Homo sapiens: one gene and its partner. The protein of the gene in region 2 purifies or fractionates together with the protein of the main gene of each other region. This does not show direct contact. Each region holds a gene or a part of one and is shown on either strand. Other genes may lie near its edges.

Evidence for each region. Proteins that work in one complex are often made in the same cells at the same time.
Region 1: the proteins of AARS1 (region 2) and IARS1 fractionate together in Homo sapiens (co-fractionation; 2 studies listed by BioGRID). This does not show direct contact.

Annotation. Positions count from the first base shown.
Region 1 is NC_000009.12:92,262,689-92,269,714, forward strand, and holds part of IARS1 (isoleucine--tRNA ligase, cytoplasmic), read right to left. Parts: intron 5,613-7,026; coding exon 5,486-5,612; intron 2,866-5,485; coding exon 2,792-2,865; intron 2,436-2,791; coding exon 2,241-2,435; intron 368-2,240; coding exon 281-367; intron 1-280. UniProt on the Homo sapiens protein: Catalyzes the specific attachment of an amino acid to its cognate tRNA in a 2 step reaction: the amino acid (AA) is first activated by ATP to form AA-AMP and then transferred to the acceptor end of the tRNA.
Region 2 is NC_000016.10:70,279,486-70,286,511, forward strand, and holds part of AARS1 (alanine--tRNA ligase, cytoplasmic), read right to left. Parts: intron 3,300-7,026; 5' UTR 3,279-3,299; coding exon 3,135-3,278; intron 1-3,134. UniProt on the Homo sapiens protein: Catalyzes the attachment of alanine to tRNA(Ala) in a two-step reaction: alanine is first activated by ATP to form Ala-AMP and then transferred to the acceptor end of tRNA(Ala). Also edits incorrectly charged tRNA(Ala) via its editing domain.

The DNA.
Region 1 (7,026 bases), on a different chromosome or scaffold from region 2:
ATCTATAAGCAAAAGTATTTCATAAAGTGCTAAGTTTAGTAAATGCTATTTTATTACTAGTAATATCACTAGTAGCATTATGTTACTAGCAGTAGCACAATCTGAAAGTCCTCCCCTTCCTCCTCCTCCATCAGGCTTAGCTGTCACACACTCCTTCTTGAGAAACAGTGGAGACAAAGCTCCACCTGTCACTACAACAAAGTTGACCGCTCTCACGCACTCCTTCTTAAGAAACAGTGGAGACAAAGTTCCACCCGTCACTACAACAAAGTTGACCTACCTTGCCAGGACAAGCCCATTCACAATTACGTTCTTGAAAGGCGGTTGTCCAAAGAGGGCCGTGGCCAGCACCAGCAGGGTATAAAACCTGAAAAAAAACCCCAAACAGTTCAATAAAAATAGAAATGAAGTCCAAGCATAAGAAAGAAACTGTATTTATTCATTGAATTTCTATTTTTGATAAGTCACACTTCTTGAGAATCACTTAAAGCAATGATTCTTAATCCTGGTTACTGGAGACCAATCAAATTACTGTCTAAGATTTGAAAGAAGCATTGAAATAAACGTCTGGAATGATTTACTGACCATTTCTCTGTTACCAGAGCTCCCAGGAAGTCTGTGTGGAGAGCCACATGGCAGCACTGGGTGGCCTCTCAGGACCACCCAGAAGCACCTAGCTGAAGATGAAGGATGGGTTTTGAATTTGGCACAAGATCATATGGAAAAGACAATTTGATGACAAAAGATGCAAAATGCACTCTCACCCAAAAGTGATAAGGCAGACTAGAAAATGCTTTTATTCTGTAAAATGTTATGTACCTCATTTATGTGCTACCTAGCTTGTTTCCCAAATGAACTCATATCCCTGACCACTGTCCTGGGGGTGATGCTTTCCTGCCTCTCTTACCTAGTCCTGCACTCTGAGAACATCAAGGGACATGAGCTGAGGAGACCAGACCCCATAGTTAACATAAACACTGATCCAGATATCCCTCCCACTTCTAAAGGAGAGTTGGGAGGAGCCCTGGTGCCCAGGAGAGGTAGCCCAGGCCTCAGGAATGGAGAAGGAGGCAGGCACCAAGGACACGGGATCCACATGAGGACTGTTACCAGCTAACAGACTTTGCTACTCCTCAAAGGAACAAGCTCATTGGTAAGGCATCTACCCCTTTCTAAAAACAGAATTTGTGCTGGGTAGCTGTTCCTATAGACAAAAAGGACTGGAATCTGAAGACAGCACATTCCAGAACATGAAGACTTGAATTCAATGATTACCCAAAGCTGTCAAAGAGAGAAAATGACACCAACAATTCCTTTAACACACCCCTGCAGAAACATTACTGTGAATGTATAATTAAAACCTGGGCTGGGCGCAATGGCTCACGCCTGTAATCCCAGCACTTTGGGAGGCTGAGACGGGTGGGTCACTTGAGGTCAGGAGTTCGAGACCAGCCTGGCCAACATGGTGAAACCCAGTCTCTACTAAAACTACAAAAATTAGCTGGGCATGGTGGTGCATGCCTGTAGACCCAGCTACTTAGGAGGGTGAGGCAGAAGAATTGCTTGAACCCAGGAGGCGAAGGGTGCAGTGAGCCGAGATCACACCCCTGCACTCCAGCCTGGGCAGCAGAGTGCAAGATTCTGTCTCAAAAAAAAAAAAAAAAGTAAATAAAGCCTGGGCCAGCAAAGCCAATCCATGGAAAGAAAGTAATTCACCTTCTTCCAATTAAGGAACTGTTTTACATAAGGCACCAGATAAAAATCAATGCCCAAATCCTCTCTCATATGTATATTTTTTAAAAATCTGGATTTTTTTAGAATGTTGATTTATAAGGCTAGCCTCAATATCTGAGCACATTACCAACTATCCCTCAAATTTCTAGCACCCAAACTACTGTCTTTTATGCAAATACTCAAACATTTGAGTAAATGATCTGACGTAAGCTAAGAACACATAACTTTTTTTATCATTTTAACATCCAGTGTAACACATATATTCCAAAATGCCAGTGAGATCATTGAAATTGTAAAACTACAGCCCTATTGTAGTGGGAGAGTCCTACTCAAAAGGCACTTTAATGTCCGTGCTTGGTGGTGGAGGGGAGAGGGCAGGAATGTAGCCTGTCTTATTTGCCACAATCTCTCCATCACCCAGTAGATAAATGGCAGTGACTTAGTAAAATACTCCCTAAATAAAATAAAATCAATAAAACACGTGATGAAAGAACAAGGAGGCATACCATCCTCTGGTTTGGTCGATGCCCTCGGCAATGAAATCTGCAGGAAAAGCATCCTCAAACTCCCTCTTGTTTTCAAACGGGTAATGAACCTGAGCATAGGGCATGCTGCCACTCTCAAACCAACAGTCAAACACTTCAGAGATGCGGTGCAAGGATCCCTTCCCACAGCGTGAAGGAATGGTCAGGTGGTCAACACTAACAAACAGAAAAGTAGTCATTTCTATTAACTGTAAGCATAACAGAACTTGCAGTTTAATTGCTAATAGGAAACACAAAACCCTGACAAGATATTATACACATTTGCAAACAGAAATATCAGCAATTCTCAAAGGCTTTCAGAGAGCACCATGAATCCTCCATCTGAAAGGTTATGCACCATTCACCTCACATTTCACAAGGACAGAGGCCACAATACTGCAATATGACATGAGTCATCAGCAAAGTAATTCAGCAAGCTAGTCACTTCCATGTGTGGCTCTGTAATCTGCTAGAGACCAGGTCTTAATAGGAGAATCGTAAAACTGAAGTGAATCGAACATTTAGAAACTGACCTCTCTCTGTGGAGATCTGAGATCTTTGCTCCTGACAGTTCTTCAAGTTCCGCCACTGACCCAATGCATACCACCTGTCAAAAACAAAGTTCAATAGCAGGAGCTCCTTAGAGCCAAACAGAGCATACTGAGTTAATTTATATAGCATGCATGTTTACTTTGAGAGACTGATGATTTTCTTTTTCCTTTTTTTTTGAGATAGGGTCTCACTACCATTGCCCAGGCTGGAGTGCAGTGGCACAATCACAGCTCACTGCAGCCTCAGCTTCCTGGGCTCAGGTGATCCTCTCACCTAAGCCTCCCAAGTACCTGGGGCTACAGGCAGGCACCACCTCACCCAGCTAATTTTTTGTATTTTTAGTAAAGACAGGGTTTCGCCATGCTGCCCAGGCTGGTCTCAAACTCTTGGACTCGAGCTATCAGCCACCCTCAGCCTCCCAAAGTGCTGCGATTACAGGCGTGAGCCACCCAGCCTGAGACTGATGATTTAAAGGCACATTAACACACCAATCTGGGCCGAAGGATAGTATTTGCTAATGTGGCTTCTCTCTCATGAAAGACACAGCCTACTCTTAGTCTCTGAAGAGGCCAGGGTTGCCACTGCTCCTCTGTTTCCACCCCAGTATCAGAGGGAGTCCCTACCTAGAGAGAATCTTAAACATTCATAGCCATACTCTCAATGGATATTAAGGGTTTATTATGTGCAAATTGTCAAAGTAACTGGCATAAGTGAAACATCTTAGATTATTTCTCTAAGGCATTTTAGTTTCCTCCTGGCACCTGAATCTGGCTCATTAATCTAGAATCTTCCCAAGAAAAAGCTAGAGCTAAATTATAGTCATACAGTGCTTAATGGTGGGAATACATTCTGAGAAATGCATTGTTAGGGTGATTTCCTTAGGCAAACATCACAGACCTAGATGGGATGGCCTAAAACACAGCTAGGCTATATGGTGGAGCCTATTACTTCTAAGCTACAAACCTGTACAGCATGTGGCTGTACTGAATTCTGCAGGCAACTGTAACACAATGGTAAATGCTCTAGTTTTCATATGGTTTGTCCCCAGCAAATCTCAAGTTGAAATTTAATCCCCAGTGTGGCAGTATTGACAGATGGAGCCCGATGGGAGGCATCTGGGTCACAGGGTGGATCCCTCGTGAAGAGACCAATGCTCTCCTTCTGCAGTGAGTTAGTTCTCTCTCTATTAGCTCCTGTGAGAGCTGACTGTTGAAAAGAGCCTGCCCCCACCCCACCGCCCGTTTCTTCTCTTGCCATGTGATTTCTGCATACTCTGGCTCCTGTCCAGCCTTCCATCATAAGTGGATGTAGCCTGAGGTCCTCCCCACATGCAGATGTCTAGTCTTCAACTTTCCAGTCATGCAGAATCATAAGCCAAATAAACTACTTTTCTTTATAAATTATCCAGCCTCAGGTATTCCTTTGTAGCTACACTAAACAGACTAAAACAGGAAGTATTTGAGTTTCTAAACATTACAAAACACAGAAAAGGCACAGTAACCATATGGTATCATAATCTTGTGGGACCACTGTCGTATATGCGGTCTGTCATTGACTGAATGACATTATGTGGTGCATGACTATATTATGCTTGGACCCGATTAAAGCAATCAGACAAAGCCACAGGATGCTAGGATTATATCCAGGTAAAGAGCTGAGAGATGGGGCTAGCTGGGGCACTCAGAATGGAGGGATCATCTGACAAGGGCCACACCAGTAGGAACTGCTGTGCGTTCTCACCCAGGGAGCTTCTGATCCTAGTGAACACTGGTGGCCTCTTTCTCTGCCCTTCCTGTTCAGTCCTGAAAAGTCTTCTGATTCAGCTACTTCACTGTTGCCTTTCAGGTCCCTATGGGAGATTCACCAAGGTCCCCAGGGTGCTGCCGCTCATCACTGCAACAATGCTGTCAGCTTTGGACAGAAGGCCAAACACACAGATCTATCTGTATAGTAAGTCCTCGCCTGATGTCATTGAGAGGTCCCAGTAGCTGGAACTAAGTGGCGTGCACCACCATGCCTGTCTAATTTAACAAACATTTTTGTAGAGATGGAACCTCATTATGTTGCCTAGGCTGGTCTCAAATATCTGGTCTCAAGCGATCCTCCTGCCTTGGCCTCCCTAAGTGCTGCGATTACATGTGGGAGCCATCACACCCGGCCTAAAGTCAGTTATCAAGAACCTCTGTATGACATTAAGTGAGGACATAGTATATCCACATACATCTATATATCTACACACATCCTCTTATTCATTTGATTTTAGAAGTTAAAGGTCTGTAATGCTTTGGTAAATTTCTTTTCAAGTTTTCTTTTTTCATCATCTATAAAGTCAGTTTAACCATAAGCTAATAGTATACCTTAATGTAGGGGGAAGAAAAGACATCGGGGAAACACACAAAAAAAACATTTAAAGTGTGTATTTCCCTGAGAAAACTGTATCCTTTTATTTTTACAGAGGAAAGTTTTATAAATTGTATTTAATTCAAGGAAAAAAAGTTAAAAACCCCAGAAACAGATTATCTTATGTCATGATTCTAGAAAGGAATAAAGAGGAAAAAAGATGAAATAAGAAAGGGGCAAAGAAAAAAACACCCTATTCTTTTAAACCACATTCAGATTTCATGAACAAAATGCTTTAGCAAAAATCAACACAAGGAAATACTGCCATGCCTCACCTCCTCAAAGTCATCGCTGACCCACAGTGGGATGGGGGTGCCCCAGTATCTGTTTCTGGAAATTGTCCAGTCACGTGCATCTTTCAGCCAATTTCCAAATCGTTTTTCTCGTACCAACTCTGGGACCCTGCAATAAACAGATCACATAACCAATCACATAAAAATATGGAAAAATTCAACATGTAAATAATACCCACAGGAGCCTTTGTATAACGCTTTGTGGACCAAACACTCTGGAAACGTGGCGCTCACTGCAAAGAGAATGTCTTCTAAATGGACAGCATAGCACACACAACAGTTTGTGCTGCCATCAATGACCTACATCCAATAGATTACCCCACAGCACACAGGCCTCCCATGTCCTCCTCTTCAACTGGAGTACAGCTGCCACATACCTCTAACCAGTCACCTTAGCTTTAGCCAGCCTCATCCCATACAACTCTAGTCTTCACATTATCCTCACCATAGCAGTTTTTCTGAACTCATTAAGCAAAGGCCAACAGGCCAGGGGATTGGTAGCTGCTCTAGCAGCCCTCTCTATAGTCACCTCTCTGGTCATCCTTGGTCTTGAATTTCAGGCTCTGGCAATGAGGCAAGTTCCCTAGAATCCTTCTCACTTAACTGGCTTTGCCCATGCCTGCCCTCTGACACGCAGCCTGCCTGCCCTCTGACACGCAGCTTCCCTCCCTTCTGCATCCATCCTCTTGCATCCCTCCCACTCCCAGTACTCTTTATTCCTTGAGGTTCAGCTTTGCAGAAATCCTTTTCAAGCACAAGGCTGAGTCAGGGTAGGCTACCAGACCTCCCCTTCTTCTCTTGGGCACTGCAGTTACTGCCCTGTACTTCAAAGATCAGTTTATATGCCTGCACCCCCTCGAGGCTATCTTACTAATATTCTATATCTAGTATCTTACACATTAGGGGAACTAATTAGCTTACTAGCTCTAAAAATGAAAAGCTGTCTTTTGAGAAATCAGGACCACTCTGCTAAGAAATATTAGAAAGCTACAGTTTATAACTATTTCCTTTGCTGCCCTGAGATTCTCCCCATTCTCCTAAACTCAGATACAGTTTTCTAGAGTCTAGTTGGGTCCTTGTGAGAAGTTAAGAGTGGTGATTACTTTTCAAACTTGTAGTGAAAAACATTCATCTGAAATACACAGGTTCAAGCCTTGTTTCATTTTGTACCCAGAGGCTGAAATGATACTTCTTGGGCTATCACCTGCAGGACACATATCAGCTATGGAAAGCAAAGGCTTCTGTGCTTGGAGCTTATCCATACAGCCAAGCACAGGGTACATCATCCACTGCAGGACCAACAAGAGTAAGTACAAATGGCTTTTGCAGGTATATCTGAAAATAATGTTTACTCTGAAAATGACTATTATTGAAGGCTAGCAAACTCTGGCAGTACAGCCATATTTTTCCAAGGTCATTTCATTCCCTAAATCGAATAAATGGTGGTTTATCATTTCCAATGAGTTTAAAAAGAAAAATACTCCCTTACATACTTTATCACAAGAAGGATGTTACTTCTGTTC
Region 2 (7,026 bases):
CCTGTCTCTACTAAAAATATAAAAATTAGCCAGGTGTGGTGGCAGACACCTATAATCCTAGCCACTCGGGAGGGTGAAGCAGGAGAATCGCTTGAATCCAGGAGGCGTAGGCTGCAGTGAGCCGAGATTTCACCATTGCACTCCAGCCTGGGCAACAAGAGCAAAACTCTGTCTCAAAAAAAAACAAAAAAAAAAAAAAAAAGAAAAGTTTACAAACACTGTACTCCCTGGTTCTTGTTCAGGCGGCTCATGTGGAAGGTGACAAAGCTTGCACCCAGGTATGTCTGAATAGAAACAGTAGCTTTCCAGTGTTCCAAAAGCCTATCCCGTTGAATGAGACCACCTAAAATTAATGCCTCCAATTCTAGGTATATGCATAGGACTCACACATAACTGAAAATATTTTTCTTTTTTTTCCATTTTGAGACAGGGTCTTGCTCTGTCACCCTGCCTGGAGTCCAGTGGCACGATCACGGCTCACCTCAACTCCTGGGCTCAAGCAATACTCCCACCTCAGCCTCCCAAGAGGCTGGAACTACAGGTGTGAGCCACCACCAGCTAATTTTTCAATTTTTCTTTTGCTTTAATTTTTCTTTAATTTTTCTCTTTTCCTTTCAGACAGGGTCTTCCTATGTTGCCCAGGCTCCTCTCCAACTCTTGGGCTCAAGCAATCCTCTTACTTTGGCCTCCCAAAATGCTGGAATTACAGGCATGAACCACTGTGCCTGGCCCATAATTTTCTCTTTTTTGAGACGGAGTCTCACTCTGTTGCCCAGGCTGGAGTGCAGTGGCGTGATCTCGGCTCACTGCAACCTCTGCCTCCCAGGTTCCAGCGATTCTCCTGCCTCAGCCTCCCAAGTAGCATAATTTTTTTGGGAGACCAGTCTCACTGTGTTGCCCAAGCTGGTTTGTAATTCCAGGATCAAGTGATCCTCCCGTCTCAGCCTCCTGAGTAGATGTAATTACAGGCGCACTGTGCCCCATGTTTCATAATTTTATAGTTAATATTATAAGAGGCAGAATATGTCCCCATTGTTTCTAACTTTCCATGCCAGAAAAGACACCTAAGAGAAAAGAAAATGTCAACTCATCCCAGAGTGAGAAGCATCCTAAGGGCTGCAGATGCCCCGGGGGAGCAGGGCTCCAAGAGAACCATCACAGGAAAGCGCTGAGAGCACCATCTAACCTGAACCCCCTTCAGCCACGACCAGCCTGGGAAGTACTGTTTAGTGTCACAGACATGCTGACAAACTCCTCTTAAACTCCTTTATAAACTTGTCATGCTTTCATCATTTTAAGAGTTAACCCTTTTCTCTCACGATAAACCTTTCAAATGTCTTTTTCTTTTCTTTCCTTTTTTGAGACAGGGTCTCACTCTGTTGTGCAGGCTGAAGTGCAGTGGTATGATCAGGGATCACCATAGCCTTGACCTCCCAGGCTCAAGCAATCGTCCCGCCTCAGCCTCCCCAGAAGCTGGGACTACAGGCATGCACCACCACACCTGGCTAATTTTTTGTATTTTTAATAAGAGACAGGGTTTCACCATGTTGCCTAGGCTGGTCTCGAACTTCTGGATTCAAGTGACCTATCTGCCTCGGCCTCCCAGAGTGTTGGGATTACAAGTGTGAGCCACTGCGCCCAGCCTCAAATATATTTTTAATTCAACTTCCCCAAATAAACCGTACTAACTAATAAATTTTCTTCAGCAATGGATCCAAAATGGCACTGGTGGCAATAATTTCAAGAAAGGCATTAGGTGGGCTGGGCGTGGTAGCTCACACCTGTAATCACACCACTTTGGGCAGCTAAGGCAGGAGGATTACTTGAGGCCATGAGCTCGAGACCAGCCTGAACAACTTGGTGAGACCCCCATCTCTGCATATAAATAAATAAATTTAGGCCAGGCAAGGTGGCTCACGTCTATAATCCCAGCACTTTGGGAGGCTGAGGTGGGTGGATCACCTGAGGTCAGGAGTTCGAGAACAACCTGGCCAACATGGTGAAACCCCGTCTCTACTAAAAATACAACAATTAGCCAGGTGTGGTGGCGCACGCTTGTAGTTCCAGCTACTTCGGAGGCCAAGGCAGGAGAATCGCTTGAACTCGGGAGGCAGAGATTGCAGTGAGCCAAGATCGTGCCACTGCACTCCAGTCTGGACGACAGCGAGACTCTGTCTCAAAACAATAAATAAATTAAAAAATAAATAAAATAATTTTAAAAGCTGACATGGTAGAGCATGCCTGTAGTCCTAGCTACTTGGAAGGCTGACATAAGAGGATCACTTAAGCCCAGGAGTCTGAGGCTACAGCATGCTAGGATCATGCCACTGCACTCCAGCAAGGGTGACAGAGTGAGACCCTCTCTCTAAAAAATAATAATAGCTGGCCGGGCGTGGTGGCTCATGCCTGTAATCCCAGCGCTTTGAGAGGCCGAGGCGGATGGATCACAAGGTCAGGAGATTGAGACCATCCTGGCTAACACGGTGAAACCCCATCTCTACTAAAAATACAAAAAAATTAGCTGTACTTGGTGGTGGGCACCTGTAGTCCCAGCTACTTGGGAGGCTGAGGCAGGAGAATGGCATGAACCTGGGGGGCGGAGCTTGCAGTGAGCACAGATCACGCCACTGCACTCCAGCCTGGGCGACAGAGCAAGACTCCGTCTCAAAAAAAAATAATGATAATACAAAAAAATTTGCCAGGCATGGTGGCGGGCACCTGTAGTCCCAGCTACTCGGGAGGCTGGGGCAGGAGAATGGCGTGAATCCAGAAGGCAGAACTTGCAGTGAGCCGAGATTGCACCACTGCACTCCAGCCTGGATGACAGAGCGAGACTCCGTCTCAGGAAAAAAAAAAAAAAAAAAAAGCTAATGTTTGAGTACCTACGTACTATGTGCGAAATACCGTGCTAAACATTTTGTATGTGTTATCTTATTCGCTTCTCACTAATACCTACAGGCCCGCAATATTATTCCTCATTTTGCAAAGAAACTGAGGCCCATCACATAAAGTTTCACAAGATCACACAGGGAGTGACAGAACCAGAATCGGTCTGACCCCAGGGCTGTGCTTTTATCTGGGCTCTGCTGCCTCTTATGTGAACCAAAAGCCAAGAAAAAAGGAAAAACCCTTACCTGGTTCATGCCTGCATTGGCAAAGAGCAAAGTGGGGTCATCCAATGGGATGGTGGCAGACGAGTGAACATACGTATGCTCGTTCCTCTTGAAGAAATCTATAAATCGCTGCCGGATTTCACTTGCTGTTAGAGTAGAGTCCATCTTGAAAGTCACCCCAAAGAACTAATCAAAGAAAAAAAAATGAAGGAAAATTAAGGGAATTGAAAGTCAAAGTACACATTACACAAGACTTCTGGCTTCTCAAGCCAAGTCAAAGCACGACTCAGGTGAGCTGTTTGATCCTAAAACCTCTATGTTGTAATGTCCAAGGCTAAAATCATCATCACCAGCAGACAGCAGCCCCATCTGTTCTTCCTTCCCATGCCAACCTCAAGAGGTTCAACACCCCAGCACACCAAGCACACTGCTGCTGGATGTTTGTTCATTAAACAAATATGTATCGAGCATCTGCTCTGTGTCAGGCCCGAGACTAGGAATTAGAAAAAAAGAGGGACAGCCAGGCACGATGGCTCACGCCTGTAATCCCAACACTTTGGGAGGGCAAGGTGGGCAGATCACAAGGTCAGGAGTTCAAGACCAGCCTGGCCAACATGGTGAAATCCCATCTCTACTAAAAATACAAAAAGTAACTGGGCATGGTGGTGCGTGCCTGTAATCCCAGCTACTTGCGAGACTGAGGCAGGAGAATCGCTTGAACCCAGGAGGTGGAGGTTGCAGTGAGCCAAGACCACACCACTGCACTCCAGCCTGGCGACAGAGAGAGACTCCGTCTCAAAAAAACAAAAAAAGAAGGAAAAAAAAAAAGAAAAAAAGGGGGAGAAAAACCCTCAGTTTAGTCCAACTGGGGAAGAGGGAGAGAGGCTCAGGAGACCGGGGTTTGAGTTCTAGCTTCAAGTCCTGAGGGAGTCACTTCACCAAAAAAAGGAGGGGTCCATATGAGATTATCTCTAAAGATCCCTTCAGCTCTGTGTTAATGTACACGCCTAGAACTGCAAAGTTCCACTAGCCCCAAAGTCAGGGTCTCTAGGTTTGGCCTGATGTCATGGTGAGGCGGCTGTCAGCAGCAATAGTCCTGGGGATGGGCCTATCTGTACAAGGGACCACCTGTATGTAGCAGGAATGTACCTACCTCTATGTAGCCTACATCCCCCAAGAACCCTAACAGCAAACGGCTGCCTTCCAGCCATTAGATTACCAGGGAGTGGGGATGCTGTAGCCCCACTTTGGAGGCACAGCTTACTGAAAGTGAAAGTACAAGGGAACTGGTGGAGAGAGAAAAAACTTTATGACTTCAAAGCTCTTTCACAAGTTGGGCGCGGTGGCTCACGCCTGTAATCCCAGCACTTTGGGAGACCGAGGTGGCAGAATTGCTTGAGCCCTGGAGTTTGAGACCACCCTGGGCAACATAGCAAGATCTTGTCAGTACAAATAGTAAAAAAATTAGCCAGGTGGGTGGATCACGAGGTCAGGAGATCCAGAACATCCTGGCTAACATGGTGAAACTCTGTCTCTACTAGAAAAAAAATACAAAAAATTAGCCGGGCGTGGTGGCAGGCGCCTGTAGTCCCAGCTACTCACAAGGCTGAGGCAGGAGAATGGCACGAACCCAGGAGGTGGAGGTTGCAGTCAGCCGAGATCGCGCCACTGCACTCCAGCCTGGGTGACAGAGCAAGACTCCGTCTCAAAAAAAACAAAAATGGCCGGGCGCGGTGGCTCACGCCTGTAATCCCAGCACTTTGAGAGGCCGAGGCAGGCGGATCACGAGGTCAGGAGATCAAGACTATCTTGGCTAACATGGTGAAACCCCGTCTCTACTAAAAATACAAAAAATAATCCGGGCATGGTGGCAGGCGCCTGTAGTCCCAGTTACTCGGAAAGCTGAGGCAGGAGAATGGCGTGAACCCAGGAGGCGGAGCTTGCAGTGAGCCAAGATCATGCCACTGCACTCCAGCCTGGGCGACAGAGACCTTGTGTCAACAAACAAACAAAAACAAAAACAGCTCTTTCACAGATATTACGATTTCCCTGAGAGGTAGGCTGGGGAGAAGTGACAGGCTTTGGTGAGAGTGCTGATCACTGGCATGGTGCTGTAGTGCCACAAACTGCTGTGTCTAGAAAAATGAGAACCATCTTATTCACAATATTATCATTATTATCAAAAAGTCTCTGGAATTCCAGACCCAACCGTAACCTTAATTCACTTTTGCCTGAGTTCAGTTCCTTTTCTGTAAAAAAGCAGTATCTACCCTGCCTACTCAACTGAGGTGTTGTGAGGATCAAAAGCTATACTGTATTTGGAAGCAATCTATAAAATGGAAAACGTTACGCCACGTGCGGTGGCTCACACCTGTAATCCCAGCACTTTGGGAGGCCAAGGTGGGTGGATCACCTGAGGTCAGGAGTTGAAGACCAGCCTGGCCAATATGGTGAAACCCCATCTCTACTAAAATACAAAAATTAGCCGGGAATGATGGCGAGTGCCTGTAATCCCAGCTACTCAGAAGGCTGAGATGGGAGAATCGCTTGAACCTGGGAAATAGTGGTTGCAGTAAGCCGAAATTGCGCCACTGCACTCCAGCCTGGGTGGCTGAGGGAGACTCCGTCTAAAAAAAAAAAAAAAGGAAAACCTTGAAGGAACAGAATGGATAATATTACTTTTAAGTTGTTTAGCTGAAAGTTTTCTTCTTTTTTTCTGGTTCTGTCCAGACTGGAGTGCAGTGGGACAATCACTTAAGCAGCCTTAAACTCCGAGGCTCAAGTAATCCTCCTGCCTCAGCCTCCCAAGTAACTGGGACTACAGTTGCACACCAGCATGCCCAGTTAATTTCTTTTTTTTTCTTTTTTGAGACAGAGTCTCACTCTGTCGCCCAGGCTGGAGCGCTGTGGCGCAATCTCAGCTCACTGCAGCTTCCACCTCCCAAGTTCCTGCAATTCTCCTGCCTCAGCCTCCTGGGTAACCTGGATTACAGGTAAGTGCCACCACACCCAGCTAATGTTTGTATTTTTAATAGAGACAGGGTTTCACCATGTTCCTCAGCCTGGTCTCGAACTCCTGACCTCAGGTGATCTGCCAGCCTCAGCCTCCCAAAGTGCTAGGATTACAGGCATGAGCCACCGCGCCCAGCTAATTTCTGTTTTTGTTATAAATGGAGTATTGCCATGCTGCCCACGCTGGTCTCGAACTCCTGGCCTCAATCTCCCAAGGTGTTGGGATGGCATGAGCCACCATGCCCAGCCAAAGTTTTCTCCTTATGAGGAAAATACAATAGAGATGTACAAAGTGAACAGGAGATCCTGACTCCAGCTACTTTCCAAAAGACACATGAATTTCCCATTTTTGCTTACTAATTCACCATAATGAATGCATACTATGTGCCAAGAATCAAAATGAATGACAGCCTATGTCCTTCCTGAGGAGACTATCATATGCAGAATTAACTGCAGTATTGTGTAAAAGGACTGAATATATTAACTATGAGTCTATGAAGGCTGAAACTATTAAAAGCTGTATCCCCACATTCATTTGTTTACCCCCATTTATTTATTCAATCTAAATTTATATTTATTCGATATAAATTCAATATATTTATTCAACATAAACTCATTGATTTATTCACTGGAGGGCTATATGGGATACAGAGGTAGCACAAAGGCAGAACCTCAGGTTTCACTTACTAACAGGAGCTGTAAAGGTCTTGGGTGCCTTAAATCACGCTGTGGCTCCAGCCACTCCACAGGAATTTTTTTTTTTTTTTTTTTTTTTTGAGACAGGGTCTCCCTCTCTGTCACCCAGGCTGGAGCGCAGGCAATGGTGCAATCACTTGGCCTTCCAGGCTCAGGTGTTCCTCCCACCTCAGCCTCCGGAGTAGCTAGGACTACAGGCATGTGC